Linked DNA regions of Homo sapiens: region 1 is linked to region 2. The links come from fine-mapping of genetic effects on gene expression. Tissue or cell type: whole blood. Region 2 holds a variant in brackets; the other region holds the start of a gene. All regions are shown on one strand. Distances are between the middles of the regions.

Region 1 (8,094 bases), 440 kb after region 2:
GTGCATGAAAGAGATTTTCCAGTAAGGGAGATAGATTTACTGAACTATTATCCTTCCTTCATCCATTTGTAGTCAATGGGATGTTTTTTAAAATGATGTCTAGCTGAACCAGCCAATGGAGACAAAAATATTTATATATAATTTTCCTCTAAGTTCACTAGTCATTTTATAGATCAGTTATAACTTTGGCTACTCCAATGAGTTAATTTCTTTCTAGAGACATTATAAACTCCTTAAAGATGGAAAATAATTGTTACTTTTTTGAATAATGCCTACTATCTAAAACAATGCACATAAAAGCTGCTCAATAAACTTTTGTTGAATTGAGAGAAAATATAAAAAATTGAAAGCAGTCTGTTTGTAATAAGTATTTGCTAAGTCTTACAGATCTTCTCTTTTTTTTGGAATTATTGCAACAAATATTTGACCTTTGATTTGTAGGATTAAAATGTGATTTCTCATATTTTAATAGGAGCAAGCATTAGTCCTGCAATTCTTTTTGTCAATAGAATAAAAATGGAATGTATGCTTGCTGCTTCTACATGCCGGTTGATACCCATGCTGAACACTTTTCTTACAACACAGAGGTTTCCTTGTTTTCTGTCTTGCGTTCTACCTTTGCTCACCACAGAGACATTAATGATGCCATGTGTCTTTTTGCACCATCAGTGCAGCAGCTTTCATTATGCTCCTTGTCTCGGTCCCACTGTAGTCTAATTAAATAAATGGAAACGGGTAGTCACTGAAAATAAACAGCAACTGCAAAAGTTTTGCCTCTTAAGAAACCTTCTGCATTGTATTCCGCCCTGCCTCATTGATTCTAAGATCTCTACCGCTTCCTTGTGTTCAGAAACCAGACTCTTCAGTTTGTCTTGCTTCAGTCAGACAAATGCTTTATAAAAATGACCTATATTTTTCAGACTGTGGGGAGAGAAGAAAAAGACTTTGAGAAAGTGACTAAGGAGGGAGTAAGAGTGATACAATCTTTGATTCAATTTAGTTGGACTGTGTTCTTTATGCCTTCATCTTTTTCTTTATAAAAAAGATAGCGTTTTTGATGCTCTGCTCCAGGCAGCCTCCCAGGGTGAGTGCAGATGTGCTGAGCCATTTGGCTGCCTTGAGGACCGGCTCAGAGAGCCTCTCTTCTCACTAATGAAGTCATCTCCTCTCGGCAGCCCGGCCTCTCCCATCACTCCATGTTGGAACTTGGCTTTGGCTTGCATAGTTCTGTCGTGATGTAGATGGTCTTTCAGTTAAGTTCTAGAGAAATCTGCTCAACCATGAACAGGACATTTACAGCACAGGAGAAAAAAAAATTTATTAAAACAAATATTTTACTGTAACATTTTGATTTGGGGGTTGGAGAGCAAAAACTCAATATCTGATGTCTGGGAAAAATCTAATGTTTTATGGCTTTCTAAGGAAATTTGTCTGTGTTTAATTTATCAGAGCAATTTATATACTTCGGGTTAAAGCACAATGAGATTGCCACCATCACTTTGCCTTTTGCAAGATTTCTTTTTTAAGAATAAAAAGAAGGCAATAAAGACCTTGTATTTCTGCCTTTCCTAGAAAGCCAAAGAGAATTCAAAGTGCTGGATGAAATGTCTGTCCCTAATTTGCAGTGTTTTATTTAAAAAAAAAATTATGACACAATCTTAGAGGATAGGCTTCCTTTTTCCAGGGTCTTTGAAAGTTAAAAGTACATTTTTAATCTGTAGCATTACTGTATCATCCAGTGAGGATAATTTGCTTAGTTGTGCCTAGGACCAGTCAGATCAAGGAGTTGAAACTAAGCTCTTTCTGAATTTGAATGGGACTGGAATCTTGTCATCCCTAGAGCAGCAATAGATGATGCCATGTCTAAGAACACTTCACCTGATCAATAAAAAAGGAGAAGTCTGAAATGTAATCCTAAAGAACCTCAGAAGGAGGTTTAGATGAAGATAATAAAATTCCCTGGAGACACATCTGCCATCTACACCTTTCCTCTCCAAGTCATTGGCTTGCTGCCCCTGAGCTCAGCCAAATTCCCAAAGACAAGATCAAAGCAAGGAAGCAAGGCACATAGCTTCTGGCTTATGGTTTCTTTTAGACACAAGCATTGTGAATGAAGATCTTGCTTTATTTATACCTGGGATCTTGGAGTTTTCACAAAGAATATCCCCAGTACAAGGATGTGATTTAAAGGGGGACTCACAGAATAATATTTTAATTACTGTTTGATTCATACTTGAGTGTAATGGACAAATAAATACAATTTTAGTTATAAAACCTGAAAAATATATATTTTCCCATTCAAAAACTTCTGATAGTTTTGTCAGGCATTGGAGAATCAGAAATAAATGCTCTCTCATTTTCTTTCTCTTGATGAAGGAAAGTCATTAAAAACAGTTACATAGAAATAATAATACAACTGTAGACTCTATTCTAAATATAGCTGGTATGTTTTCCTTTTTCTTTTTTATCCATTCTCCATTTTAGACAGCTAGAGGGGAAAGTCTGCCCTAGAGATAGAAAGAAGATATCCATGGGGTATAATTTCATTTTAGTTATCTGATAGCCTGAAGAAGTATTTAATTTTCTGAATAATAATGTTACAAGTCAAAGAAGAGAAAAGACAGGCAGTTTAAAGCTTTTCAACATTGTGCATATTCTAATTCCTTAAGTCAGCCCTGAGAAAGTGCCTTTGTCCTGTAGAAGTATTTGGTCAAGTGTTGTGAAGTCTATTGGCATTAAAAGAAACTAAAAATTTTGGAGGATTAGAGAATCAAATTTGGCAACATAAATGAAAACATCTCAGAATGTAAAAAGTATCTAACCCATCACTTTCAATCATGTTCCATTATATACAGATGGCATTATTTATAGTGAATGTTAACTATTAACATTTCCCTAAAAATGGGCATTAATCTGCTATTAGTTGCTTGTTTCTGATCTAGTTCTCCTTTGTTGAAAGGTTTTACTTAACTGTATCATAAAGGGACAAAAGGGTAAAAGATAATAAGCTTTTCAGACTGGCAGATCTGTCACTTACAAAATGGCCTTGGGCAGGTTACTTGAACTCTTTGAAACTCAACTAGATTTACTCAAATTTAAGAATGAGAATACAAATCCACATCTTGAAGTGTTTCACAGAAAGGTCTATCTTAATGTCTGGAGTATATATTTCAATGAACATTCATTTTATTTTATTTCTCTCCATTCCTGAATCAAGCAATCTTGAATCTAAAGTTGCTATGATTAGCACTGAAAAGACCACTGGACTATTAATTGTGTGACTTTGGGACAGTAACTTTCTGCACCTTAGTTTGTTTACATGTTATACATGAAGGTTGAAGTCTGATTCTGCTCTGTGACTATCATTCTAAACATCTGATGAAATCAAATTTCAGTGTTTGGAATGGTAGTACAATAAATTTACTAAGAATAAATAATTCACTGCAAAAACACATTGATTTCCAAATGATGTAACTGACAGTTATATTACTGCAGAGGGCTGATAAATAACAAAAGAAATGAAAGATGCACATGGTGAGAACTGAAATTATCCTGACAAGTCTTCTACCTGTTTATCACTTAAAATCAATGACCATGCTGAATGCCTACAAATTACAAAATATAAAAGAAATCTTATAAATGCGCATGTACAGGAGTCTAAGTTACTAAAAGTTTTAAAGCATAAGTTTAAACCAAACTAATCAAAGAAGTTGAGAGGAAAAATTGGCTTTCATCTTTAATCACTACTGTTTTGAGGTCCTATGTTTAATATAATTTTCTAAGTAGAGGCTTCAGAGAGAAGAGTTGTGAGGATACTTTCATATTTGTGTAGAAGGAAAAGTTTGCCATCCATTCTAGTATCCCTAGTGTTATACTGATGTGCACCTTGGATTTATTTTGTTCCTATTGTATAAACTCATACTTGACTTCAAAGAAAAGGAAAATCCAAAGTCCCTCTTTTCTAAGGGGACAGAAATCCTTTGTGTCAACTGTTTGACCCTTTTCTCTGTAAGGTCCTATTGGAAATCTTTTGTAACACAATGCAGGGGACTCTTCCATGTGTTGATGCTGTTTACACAGTGGGGTGGGCCTGACTGAAGAAAAAAAATCGCATATACGCATGAAAGATTATGGTCTTATTTCCGGAAAGCATGAAAGGTGATTGATACTTCCAAGAAGTCCCTGTTACTCAGGAAAATTATCAAATATTCTACTCAGAGATACTTGGAAAGACTGAAGGAAAGGAAGAACGAAGAAAGCAGAATCTAGACTTATGTGGGGAGAGATTTGTGGCAGAGGAAAAGTATTCTCTTTGAATCCGACAAGGGATTTGCCTGGGGGAATTTCCTGTCCAGCCTTTTATTACCAGGGTCTTTTGAAGCCGGGCTCCCCATTGGGCAGTTCCCTGGGAGTGCAGTGGGGAATTCTTACACTTTCCCTCTAGGTCCCCGAAGGATCTCGTTTTCTCAGTGTCTCTTTCAGGTTGGCAGGAGCCTTGAGCCTGACACTTCCCTTTGATGGGACAGGCAAGCTCTGTGGGCGCGTAAACACGCTGTAACCAAGTTCTTTGCTGATTTTACAGTTTTGTGTGCTCCCGAGAAGAAGTGATCGTACTCAATTGTCTATTGCTGGCCTGCCCCCTAAGAGCCTGGGGGCTCCTTTCCCCTAACCCAGAACTAGCTGCACGGGGGGCGGGGAAATGGGGGTGGGGAAGGAGTGGGAGGGCAGTGGTTTCCGCGAGCAGAGCGATGTTACTGAGTGAGTCCCTGAATGGGGAGCGCTGCTGTCCCCAAGCCGATTGGTACTTCTTGTCAGGAAGAAACGCCAAGAGGTGGGAGTGCCTGGGGAGGGAGGCAGGCGGTCCCTACCGCAGGCGCGGGGAGCTGCCTTTCCGCCCCTCCGCCTGCTTTCCAAGCCTGGACTCTTAGGAGTGGCTGAAGCTGCGGAGCGCTTTTGGAGCCTGTGAATGAACCCTCCTCCTCTCCCTCCTCCTTCTTCTCGCTGAGTCTCCTCCTCGGCTCTGACGGTACAGTGATATAATGATGATGGGTGTCACAACCCGCATTTGAACTTGCAGGCGAGCTGCCCCGAGCCTTTCTGGGGAAGAACTCCAGGCGTGCGGACGCAACAGCCGAGAACATTAGGTGTTGTGGACAGGAGCTGGGACCAAGATCTTCGGCCAGCCCCGCATCCTCCCGCATCTTCCAGCACCGTCCCGCACCCTCCGCATCCTTCCCCGGGCCACCACGCTTCCTATGTGACCCGCCTGGGCAACGCCGAACCCAGTCGCGCAGCGCTGCAGTGAATTTTCCCCCCAAACTGCAATAAGCCGCCTTCCAAGGTAATCACGTTTCTTTTGTTCCCCCCTTAAAAAACAAAAACAAAAAACTTATAGAAAAAAACCCGCGAGCTTAGAAAAAAGAAGCAATTGGTAGAAGGCTTTAATTAAGGCAAAGAGCTGTAAGGCGAAGTTAAGAAAATGTAGGCACTTAAAAAATGCAGGTAACTTTCATAAGGGCTTTTGGGGAGAGGCATACAGAGGGACCTTGGTGTTGAAAAAGATTCAGACAAAAGAAACCCAGGGTGGGGTGGGGGGTAAAATGACTAACGGAATTGGGGGAAGGGAGGGAATAAATTGTAAAGAAATCATAGAAAAGTGGTGGGTTCTTGAGCTGGAGAGAAGAGAGGGACCTTTGGCACTTTGATTTTTTTGTTGTTGTTGTTCTTAACACGCTCGAGGCAAAAGTTTGAATGGGGACTACCAAGACTTGCCACAGACAAGTCCCCGAAGCCGCCTTGGTGCAGGCCACCTGGTTTCCCAGCCCCTGGTGTGTGGTCAGTGCCTGGTGTTCCTGGAAAGCCACTCCCGGGCAGCTCCTGACAGTGCGACCCGGCGCCCAAGCAGCCTGGGACCTTGCGCGGACCTGACCCCTTCAGACCGCAGGCAGTCTGGGAGGAGGTCCGGCCGGGGGAGGTGCAGGATCCCCGCCGTGTCTCTTTGACGACTTGGGGACTGTCACGGTTCTCTCCCGGCGCCCCTGGGTTCTTTTGTCCTGCACGCGGTGCGAAGGGGCCAGCAGGGAAGGAGCAGAGGATGGGGGGTGGGGTTGTTGGAGCCCCGCGGAGGTCTGGGAGGCCCCTGGGCGGGAAAAGCCTGTTCTGAATCGGCAGGGATGTGCAACAATTTTTCTCACCCTGAAGAGTGAAATAGGGTCTGTCGCTCCCATCTCAACAAGCAAACCGGCACCCAGAGCGCACTGCAGACAAAGGTGGCTCGGGGACCCGAATCAGGGGCCTCTGGGTCAGTCCTCTCGCCCAGACTACAGGAGTCCTCCGTTTCCTTACATATTCCCCACCCTCTCCTAGTTCTCCGCTCTAGTTGAGCAACTTTACTGGCAGGTCTAGCGGCAGCGGCGCGCGCGTGTGCCGGGAGCCCCGGGGGACGTCCTCGGCTGGAGCGCCCCACCGTCCTGCAGAGGCGTGGGCGCTGTAGGGCGACATCCCTGGTGCGTGCAGACCTAGGGCATCCGGGTTGTTCTGGCCCGCGGTCTGTGTCACTGGGCGTGGAGCGGTCTGGGTGTTAGGCAGAGGAGAGCGGGGTAGAAAAATAGTGTCATAGCCTAAACTATTTGCTCTCCAATCCAACTGCGTCTCGGCAAGTCCTGCATGTCCCTGGGAGATGCTGCGGGAAGGGGGAGAAATCTACACGGCGCCTGGAGAGTTGTCCTGCCGCGCGCACACCCGCGGCAGAGTCTCTCTGGGTCGCGTTCCTCATCTTTGTGTCTCCCTCTGTCTCCATCTTCTCTGCCTCCCTTCCCCTCTCCCAGCCTCTGTTCTCTCTCTCTAGCTTCTGCGTCCCCTCCCCCACAGCTGACAAATGAATGGCTAGTGTGAAATCCCTGCCTTTCCCGTGCTCCAAGGCAGCAGGGAGGGAGGAGCGAGGGAGGCGGTGCGCTCCTTCGGATCTGCCCCCAGTTCAGCTCACAAGACTTGCAGAACCTAGATGTCTAGGAATTGGGAGTTTTGCGGCGGGTGTGGGCGCCCCCTGATGGAGAAGTCCCGCACAGGCGGAGAAAAACAAGCCCCCCAGACCAAGCGAGCATCTTTCACAACCTTGTGTTCAAGGATGGAAGGCCCTAGTTTTCCCTTAAGTCATTCATTTTGCACTCCACAATCTGCGGCGTACATCTAGGAGTTTGGAGGACCCTGAAAAAAGGTCTTGGTCTGTGCAAAGTGCAGAGATGCCTTCTCGCGAGTCGGCTGGAACGCACGCGGCGCCCTGGGTCCAGTTCGCCGCTTAGTGGACGAACGCACATGGCCAGGGTGGAGCCAGGTTTCGGAGGTCTAGACGCGCCACCCTGGGCGTCTTTAAGAAAGATAATACACATACCGTGCTCTCAAAACCCATGACCACTTGAACCCAACGCTAGGGCCCCGCCCCAGGATATTGCAAAAGAAGGGCTCCTAATCCAAAACTTAAACTTCCTCAACTTCAGGGCGGGCGTCGGACGGGAAAGTGGAGAGAAGGCGGGCAGTGGGAGGAAAAAAGAAAGGGAAGGAAGGGAAGTGGAAGGAAAGAGGACCGTGGAGGGGAGGAAAAGGAGAAAGGAACGGAGATGGGGCAGATGGCATTCAAACAGCCAGGAACGGACCGGAAGGGTTCGTTTCGGGGTTTGGGTCTGAATTTCGAGACTCGTTTTAGGATACTCTTTTCCCTTTCCCAGCGGCAACAAATGTGACTGCAGAGGCGTGCCGGGATGGAAGGGTGGGAAAGAACTAGACAAGCGGAGGTGGTCCAGCCCCGCCCAAAGGGGCTGGGTCTGGGGCCCGCCCCCACTCGCTCACCTCGCGCCAAGGGAGGACCCGCAACGGGCGCTCCCCGCAGCGGCTGGGTTAGCCAGCCGCCACGTGGGTTGGCGCTTCGGCTCCCAGCCGAGACGGGTGTGACTTCCTGGGCTCAGAGACTGCAGTACAGCCGCACAGGCGGCCGGCGCAGCCGAGGCCCCCACCCACCGAGGCCAATGGGGGCGGGGCGGGGAAGGCAGGGCCCAGCTTAACCGAGAGAGCCGAGTGGCCTCGCCCCCAGGATTCGGG
Region 2 (8,108 bases):
CTCTTGGGGTCCATGATTCGAGGCCTTGGCACATGGATGGTATTACTGGACTTTTCCTGGGCTAGAGGGGAGCACTGTCCTGAAGGGAGAGTCCCAGGCTCAACAGTATTCATCACAAGCTGACTGAAGGGTCCTTGGGCCTTGAGTGAACACTGATGTATTTGCTGCAGGCCTGGGGTGGTGGTGGGTCCTGGTTTTCTTTCTACTTTGGCTTTGTTTTTATTCTCTAGGTCTTGGCTTAACCTGGTCCCTGCCTCTCACTGCTTAAATAGAGTAGTTTAAAGAATACTGATTAATGGATTAATATCAAATTGAAAGGAGCACTTCCAAAACCTGTGCAGAGTATCTCTCTTGTTCTGTTCTCATATTCATCTATTCCAATGACTTGGAGAGGACAGTGTGCTTGTCAAATTTTCAAACTCTATACAGTAGAACTGACATTAATATATTTTATATTTATTCAGTGCTTTGCCATTTCAAAAAATTTCAGGATATGGTATCTCATTTGATTCCAGGAATGATAGGCACAGATGAAAAGATCAATTTCAGTTCAGTATGAAGGACAGCTTTCCATAAATTGGCCTGTCCAAATGAAACACCAAGCTTCACAAAGAAGTAAGCTCCACACAGTGAAGACAGTTTTAGTAAACAGTAAAAGTTGACTCTCAGGGATTTTGTGGAAAGATCCTTGGTTTGAATGAAAGCTTGGATTAAATGGCTGTGTGTGTGTATGTGAGAGAGAGAGAAGAGAAATACACATTAATTTAAATATATTATCTAGGGAGAGAGAACAATTGAGAACACAGGCTACTGTTTTCTTAAAACCTTTGTTAAGATAACTCCCAAATAGACTTTTAATATAGGACCTTAATCACATGTAGTTGAACAATTCAACGTTTTTAAGGTTTTATTTCAAAAGTTCAAGAAGTCTGAAGTAGTATAGGTCTAGATCATGGTTTCTGGATTACACCAGGGGTGCTGACTCTTCTAAAGATGAAATAGGCCCCAAACTGAAGTGTTAATGAGAATATCTGATGGTTTAAGGGCAAGTGGAAGCAAGATGCATGTGAGGACTGAAGACATCACACAGGCATAGAAAGAAGGATGCGAGTGTGGAGAGCAGCAGCCTGCAGAAAAAGCTGGGGTGGCCAGTTGAAGGGAGTGGATATCAAACCAGCATAGGGCAGGGCTAGCATGAGGTCACTGCCCTACTCAATTAGAAGCAGAAGAATTAAACCAAATACCAGAACTGGTTTGCTTTGCTTTTTCCATAGTTGGACTAAATGCCTCCCTTCATGACTCCAAGACCAGCTCCAGTGGAATGTTTTAGTGAAATGCTCACTTGGCTTAGTTTAACTTTGCCTTAAAAAATGATCATTCCATGACTTCTTTGAAAATTTTGTTTAATGATTTTGTGATACTGGGGCAGGTGGGGCAAGAAAGGAACAGTATAAAGGATTTGGCAACTGAATAGACCAGAGTAAAATATTATTCAGTGTGAGCTTCTGTTCTTGTAAGAACAGAAAAATATCCTCTTAAATTTTTTTTTATTATTTGAATAATATTAAACTAAATGCTTATAATAAAGTTAGGCAGAAACATTTAGAAATTATAATTATAATCCAGTTTATTTGTTTAAGAAACACTTGTATGCTATATACCAGGCGTTGTGCTTGGAACAAGTTTTTAAAAAGTAATTTTTAAAGCCCTTACAACCTATTCAGCACACACACAAACACAACTGCATAATTTTAATTCTTTTTCAGTTTGATAGTAGTAATCTTCCCTTGGGCCAACACATTTTCTTTTAGATTCCACTGAGGTGGTTTTTTTTTTTAAGGTAGTATGTAATATTTTAATCTCTTGCCATCTTTCATATTTGACTCATCAAGAAAAGGTTGTGAAAAGTCTTAGTTTGCCCTTTTTTTATCTTACATTTTTTTTAATCTTACATCTGCATTGCCACTGACAGGAATGCCTTAGTAATATTCCTAGAGATTCCAGATGTTCTTCAAATTTTACCGTATGCCTGCCACTTGGAAAGTGTTCAGTATAGTATATGTTGCTTTTTTTTTTTCCAGAGTAACTTGATTATAAATTACAGACAATGCTCTGTAAGTAAGTTAAACACCTAGCACCCAGATCTTGGTTTTGTTGTTGTTTAACCATTCTACATTAAAAAGAACCAGGGTTCCTTGGAGAAACATCTGATTCTAGGACTAGGGCAGGAAATATACAAGACAAGCCTGGAGCACCTTACAGTGTCAGAAGGCAAGGCAGTTCTCAACAACAAAACAATAAAACAAACAGAACCCAAAGACCACAGTGATGGGGATCTGTCAAAAAGACACAGAAGCCAACTGAAAGAGCTCCTAATAGCCAAAGCTGAAACATTTGAGCAACAAAAGCAAGTAGTATTAGATTATAACCCACAGTATAAAATAAATATTTATGACTCCAAATGACGTAAAAAATGATTGAATAAAAGAATAAGTAGGCGAGACTAGACAATTTTTTCATGCAAAAGAACAAGTCTGCCCTCAAGGAGGTGAAGCATAACTCCCTACTCCTTAAGTTTGCCCTGTGTATAATAACTTCTTTCCAAAGAGTAAAATAAGGAAAGGTAAATTAGAGTCACTTTAGAGTATAGAACCCTGACAAACACTGCCCCAGCCAGGTGGTCAAGGTTAATATCAGCAGTCATAAGTCATAATAGATAGTATGTACTCTTGATGTGATAAGAGTGGCACTTTAACTCTGTGCTCTTTCTCCCAAACACCCATAATTGTATGCTAATTATGAAAAAAAAAATTAAACAAATCACAATTGCAGAACAGCCTATAAAATACTTAACTGGCACACCTCCAAACTATCAAGGCTAATAAAATCAAGAAAAATCTGAGAAACTGTCACAGCTAAGAAGAGCTTAAGGAGACATGATGACTAAATGTAATAGGGTATCTTGATGGGAACTTGGAACAGAAAAAGGACACTAGGAAAAAACTAAGAAAATCTGAATAAAGCATGGACTTTACTTAATAACAATATATCATATTAGTTCATTAATCATAACAAATATTGCATACAAATTTATTGTCATTAATATTTGGGGAAACTGGGCATGAAGTATATGGTAACTCTTTGTATTATCTTCACAATTTTTCTCTATATCTAAAACTATTTTAAAATAAAATTTTATTAAAAGAAATCTAAATATGTGATCTTGTGAGTAAGTAGAAATTCTGTTATCCACCTTTCAAAGTTGTAAGATCTGGTACTATTTGAGATAATCTCAGTGTCCGGAATCACTGCATTTTGAAGGTATGAATGATTATATGTCTTGGTGTGTCTTGGAGGCACTTTGCTAATAATGCTTTTTAAAAAAACATTTGTAAAAACAAAAGGTAATGAGCTGTCCATATTCAGAGACATTAATTCCTTTGGATCCCTCAGGCAGCATTACATGTCCTGGTAAAAAGCAATGGATTAACTCTGTTCTGTCCAATACTGTAGCTATTAGCATATGTGATTACTGAGCACTTGAAATGTAGCTGGATAAAACTGAGATGTGCTATTGGTACAAAATACATACTAGATTTTAAAAACAAAAGCAAAATATTTTGTTAATAGTTTTTTATACTGTTTACATGTCAAAATTATGTTTTGGATATAGTGGGTTAACTTAATATATTGTTAAAATTTATAACACTTGCTTTTTTTTATTCTAGTATGGCTAATTGTAGCCACTTGAAATTTAAAAATAGATGTGTGGCTCACATGTCTATTAGACAGTGCTGGATTAAGTGGATCCTCGGAGACTGGAAGAGTTAATGGATTTCCCAAAAGCAAACAACGTCCCTCAGAGAAATTGTCAGACTCTGTTGTGGGTTTCTAGGCTCTCACCACAAATAGCTGGATATGTGCAACATTAAGGCAATTTCCCGGAGATGACTCTTGCCACCATGAAAAGCCACCTGCAGTGACAAGAGGCTTTCTTGATTTTTCTCTCTTATTTCCTTGAAGATTGTGCTTAAAAAGGAATGTTGGAGAGTAGTTTCTTGAAGGATTTGTGAGTGAGGAAATTAAAATGTATAAGGAAATATGAACCACTATA[T/C]AGAGCACTTCTAATGCTACCTTTTTTTTTGGATGGGTTTGCCTTGGAGTTGGAGATGTAGTTTTTTCCAAACCTCTTTGGCACAACATATTTTAAAGCATGAAAATATTCTAAGGCAGTATCCACATTACAATAAAGCAACTGGCAGAAAAATGAAATGTTAACAACTTAGTTGTTTGGACTACAGAGACTATCAGACAACCAACATGAACAATGCACAGGAGACATCTTACTTTGCTAAATGTAAATTTCCTCTTGGTAGATGAGTGAGGAAGAACAAGTTCCAGCTGGTTGGCGGGCAGGCGGAGGGGTGTGGAAAATGTGTGTGGGTTTTTTTTGAAAAAAATTATTTTTAACAAAATTGTGTTTTTTAAGTTGTATTTCCTTGAGTACATTATCTTGAGAAAAAAAGAAAGAAAAGCCAAACAGAGTGTTTTAGTTTTACATAAGTAATATAGGTAGATCTGATCATAAATTCCTAAATTTTACCAAAGTTTGTCATTATAAGCAAGATAAATCAATTGTCAGTAATTACTGTCACCCTCTGCTCTGAGTGGCTCTTAGAAGGAAATTATGTGAAGAGAGATAAGCCCTGTTTTTTCAAGTAAGAGCCTTGGGGAAAGGGCTCAGGGTACAGCTTGCCTCACTCTGATGGGCAGAATTGAGTGTTGGATGTTAGGAGACGACAGCATAAAAATACTGTGTTATAATTTATGATTTGACTATTCATGCAATGCCACTTACGTTGGCACTGCAGGAGATTTACCTTAAAATTATATCAAATAACCTAGGCTAGCAATCTATGTATTTACACATGCAAGAGATGGATGAGAAAGTGGAGGCACAGGAAGCCAAGTTATTTGTAGTTGTATAGTCACACAGGGGTTCTAGACCGGTGGTCTATAATCCTAGGCTCTTTGTATGAGCCTTCTCTGCCTCTCTTACAAATACCATGCACAGCTATCACACCTAACCAGTGTACTAGAAGATTACAAGACACCTAAATGCCAGGTTGGAGAAGCACAGGTTGATTGAGCTTGATTCTTTAAGCTGAAAGCAGAAAGTCTGCTTCTACCTTTTCCTGTAGTCTCCTGGAGAGACCATCCCTCCTCAGCATTATGGGAGCTGCTCTTTGTTAAAGGCTCTGTCTGAGTGGTGTATTTTTGCCTCAGAGGCTCAATTTGATCAATTCATATGCCTATGTAAAAACCACCAAGCTTCTAAAGCGATCACATTAGGCTCACGGTGGGAGTCTCTACACATGAAGAGCAGGACATGTGTCCACTGCATTTCAGCATCTGTGCAGGACAGCCGTGCGTGCTGCTCTGCCCTGGGCAGAAGCTGTCTCAGTTGGCCTGCTTTATTCCAGCTCTGAAACCCAAGTCCCATGCTAAGGGCCAGAGGAGAGGTTCATGCTGCATTAGGCTAGCTCTGCTGAGAAAGGCTGGAGAAACACATCAGTAATAATTTAGCACTCAGCAGCTGCAAGAGTGCAGGCCCCTGCCAAGTGCCAGCCTTTGGTTCTCCTCTCTACCAGGCAGTAGCTAGTTCATTCTCTGGGCACTCAGCCACATTTCAGAGAGAGCCGTACTGGTGATGGCTGGGACAGCACAGACACACAGGACAGCACAGACACATAGCCCCCTCAACAAGGCACTACTGTGAACTATCCTGCTGCACAAACTGTGTTTAAGAATTGAGACGTTAGCAGCTAAGAGGATACAGGGAATGGTTGACTTAAAGAATTATAAAGCCAGTGATAAAATATAAAGTTCTAAATAAACACATTATAATAAGCAGAACATGATTTAGAATACATGCTGCTGAGTGGCTTCTAAATGAGACCCAATTTTAAATACACAGATTCTGGAGCTCAATTTGTTTCCTAACTGAAAAATAAATAAACAATCCACCATTTCCTGTCAGATCCCAGGGTGGTTTCCTGGAACCAAAAGAATCAATCATTCCAAACATAAGATAATCAATGTATTGGAGTGGGGGCGGGGGCAGGAAGGGGCGGGAGGAGAGGTAGGGTTTATGAAGCCTTGGCTGCCTCAGCAGTGTGTAGAAGGCATCTCAAATCTACCCAACATAAAATCTCATTCATATCCCCCTAGTTTTTCACCCTTAATCTCATCTAGATCAGATCTATGATTTCAACGACAAACCTTGTTCACCATGGCATTATTGCAGCACTCTATTTTTATTGGAAATGGCAGCTCTTATTCCAACAGACCCCTTGGCTTCTGTGTGTGGCAATCTGAGTTTGTGTCAGTTGTCAGCCTAAGGGGTTAAAATTCATTTTAAATAGCAGCACGGTGGGTGCAATCCTTCCTTTCACTTGCCTTGGGAATAATTTAGCAATCTGCATTTAAAGTCACAAAGTCTATTTGGGTTTGAGAGAGCAAATTTTATGACAATTAGACTTGTTTTTTGAAGGTGAAGGAAAAACCAAAATGGCCATTTAATAGACATTGAGCTAATCTGACATGTTGCAGGAAAATTTTTGAAGGCTAACAATAGGTTAATTCTGTAATACTTAAGATAGATGATAATGCTATTGCAGTCAACATGTTTTTTAAATCTGTATACTTTTTTTTTTTTTTCAAGAAAGAAAGAACCTTGAAGCATCCTGTGGTCTTAATCTCTTAGGCGTTCTAAGGAATTCTTCAGCCAATTAATAAAGTGCCCCTTCACTTGAAGTCTATGAAAGCCAACATTTGTGGTGAGCAGGGAACGTCAGTTAATCACATATTAGGGATGATTCCTTTGTTCATTGTGCAAAAGTGGTTTCTAGCAGACATTCTTATATTCCCATACACAATATTTATCTTCTGAAAGCCAAACGAATTCAAACAAGCCAATGTGACCTTTAAATAGTGTTTTTTTTCTGTCTCTTGGAAAACAATTAAGGGGTTTCACTATATTAGTGGGATTTCCCCTTTCTTCAGTCTTCAAAAGATTTTTCTTTCATCTTCTTTTTCTTTCTCTCCAGCTACAAAATGTGCTCATTACGGGCCTGTCAGCTACAAAAGGGAGACTTTTTCTTTTTCAGCAGGTATGAAAATCTCAATAGCTTCTTTAATCTCCAGAGAGTTCTCTTCTGCTCTATTTAATAAAACTCAGCACTTCAGTTATCAGAGTCATTAGAAGGAAGCAGGATTGGAAGAAGGAGCCTTAATTTATTTTGGTGACATATGTAATTAAACCATTTTTTTCCCAATGGCTCTATATTTTTCCACTACCTTTTTTTTCTTTCAGAATATTTCTGAAGAAAATCTCCTCATATGGAAAATGAAGATTAAGCAGCAATAAAATAAAATACCCACTCCTTCAGAAGCCAAAATAATTCTTTTACCAGGCAATTAGCACAAATAAGGGCCAGGATGCCATTCACCCCCAAATAAACCTGATTCCCTTGAATATCATTGGCACTTTTTTTACTGTCTTTTTCTCTCAACTAATCTGAAACATATTTGATGAGCCAAGTTTGCTCGATGGTCCTGTACAAAAGGATGTGAGTTTGATAACATTAAAGGGCTACAAATCTCTGTGCACTGTAGACATGACAGAGAAAGTGGATAAAGTGCATCTTCTGAAGCTACAGTCAGAAATCCAGCACTACGTTAGCACATGGCAACCAAGCTCAATTAATTATTTTTTTCTAGTTAATTATTCCTTAAGGAACCAAAAAAGTTAAAAAGTTGCAATTAGTTGAAAATACAAAATATTCTAAAAATTATCAACCTTAGGTCTGGGGGAAAGTGGATTTCAATGGCTCTCCACTGTCACCCATATCTCGGTACCCCAAAATTTAGTGGGTGTGTTATAGAATAAGCCCTCCCCCTAATCCTAACTGATGATTAATTCAAATGATTTTTTTTTTTTTTTTGGAGACGGAGTCTCGCTCTGTTGTCCAGGCTGGAGTGCAGTGGCACAATCTCGGCTCACTGCAACCTCTGACTCAAGGTTAATCCATCAATTGATGATCATT

Evidence for each region. PIP is the estimated chance that this variant, and not a neighbour inherited with it, causes the effect.
Region 1: VCAN starts here. The variant in region 2 is fine-mapped to the expression of VCAN in whole blood (TOPMed, PIP above 0.99).

Annotation. Positions count from the first base shown.
Region 1 is chr5:83,466,683-83,474,776 of GRCh38, forward strand. VCAN (versican) reads left to right here and starts at 5,062. Exons shown (of 15, transcript NM_004385.5): 1 at 5,062-5,341. RefSeq lists an enhancer at 5,491-6,363 and silencers at 7,796-7,885, 7,916-8,094.
Region 2 is chr5:83,030,337-83,038,444 of GRCh38, forward strand. No RefSeq gene overlaps it. Among named protein-coding and RNA genes, the nearest start is that of TMEM167A, 43 kb to the right of the region's middle. The variant T/C (reference allele first, on the strand shown) is at 4,115.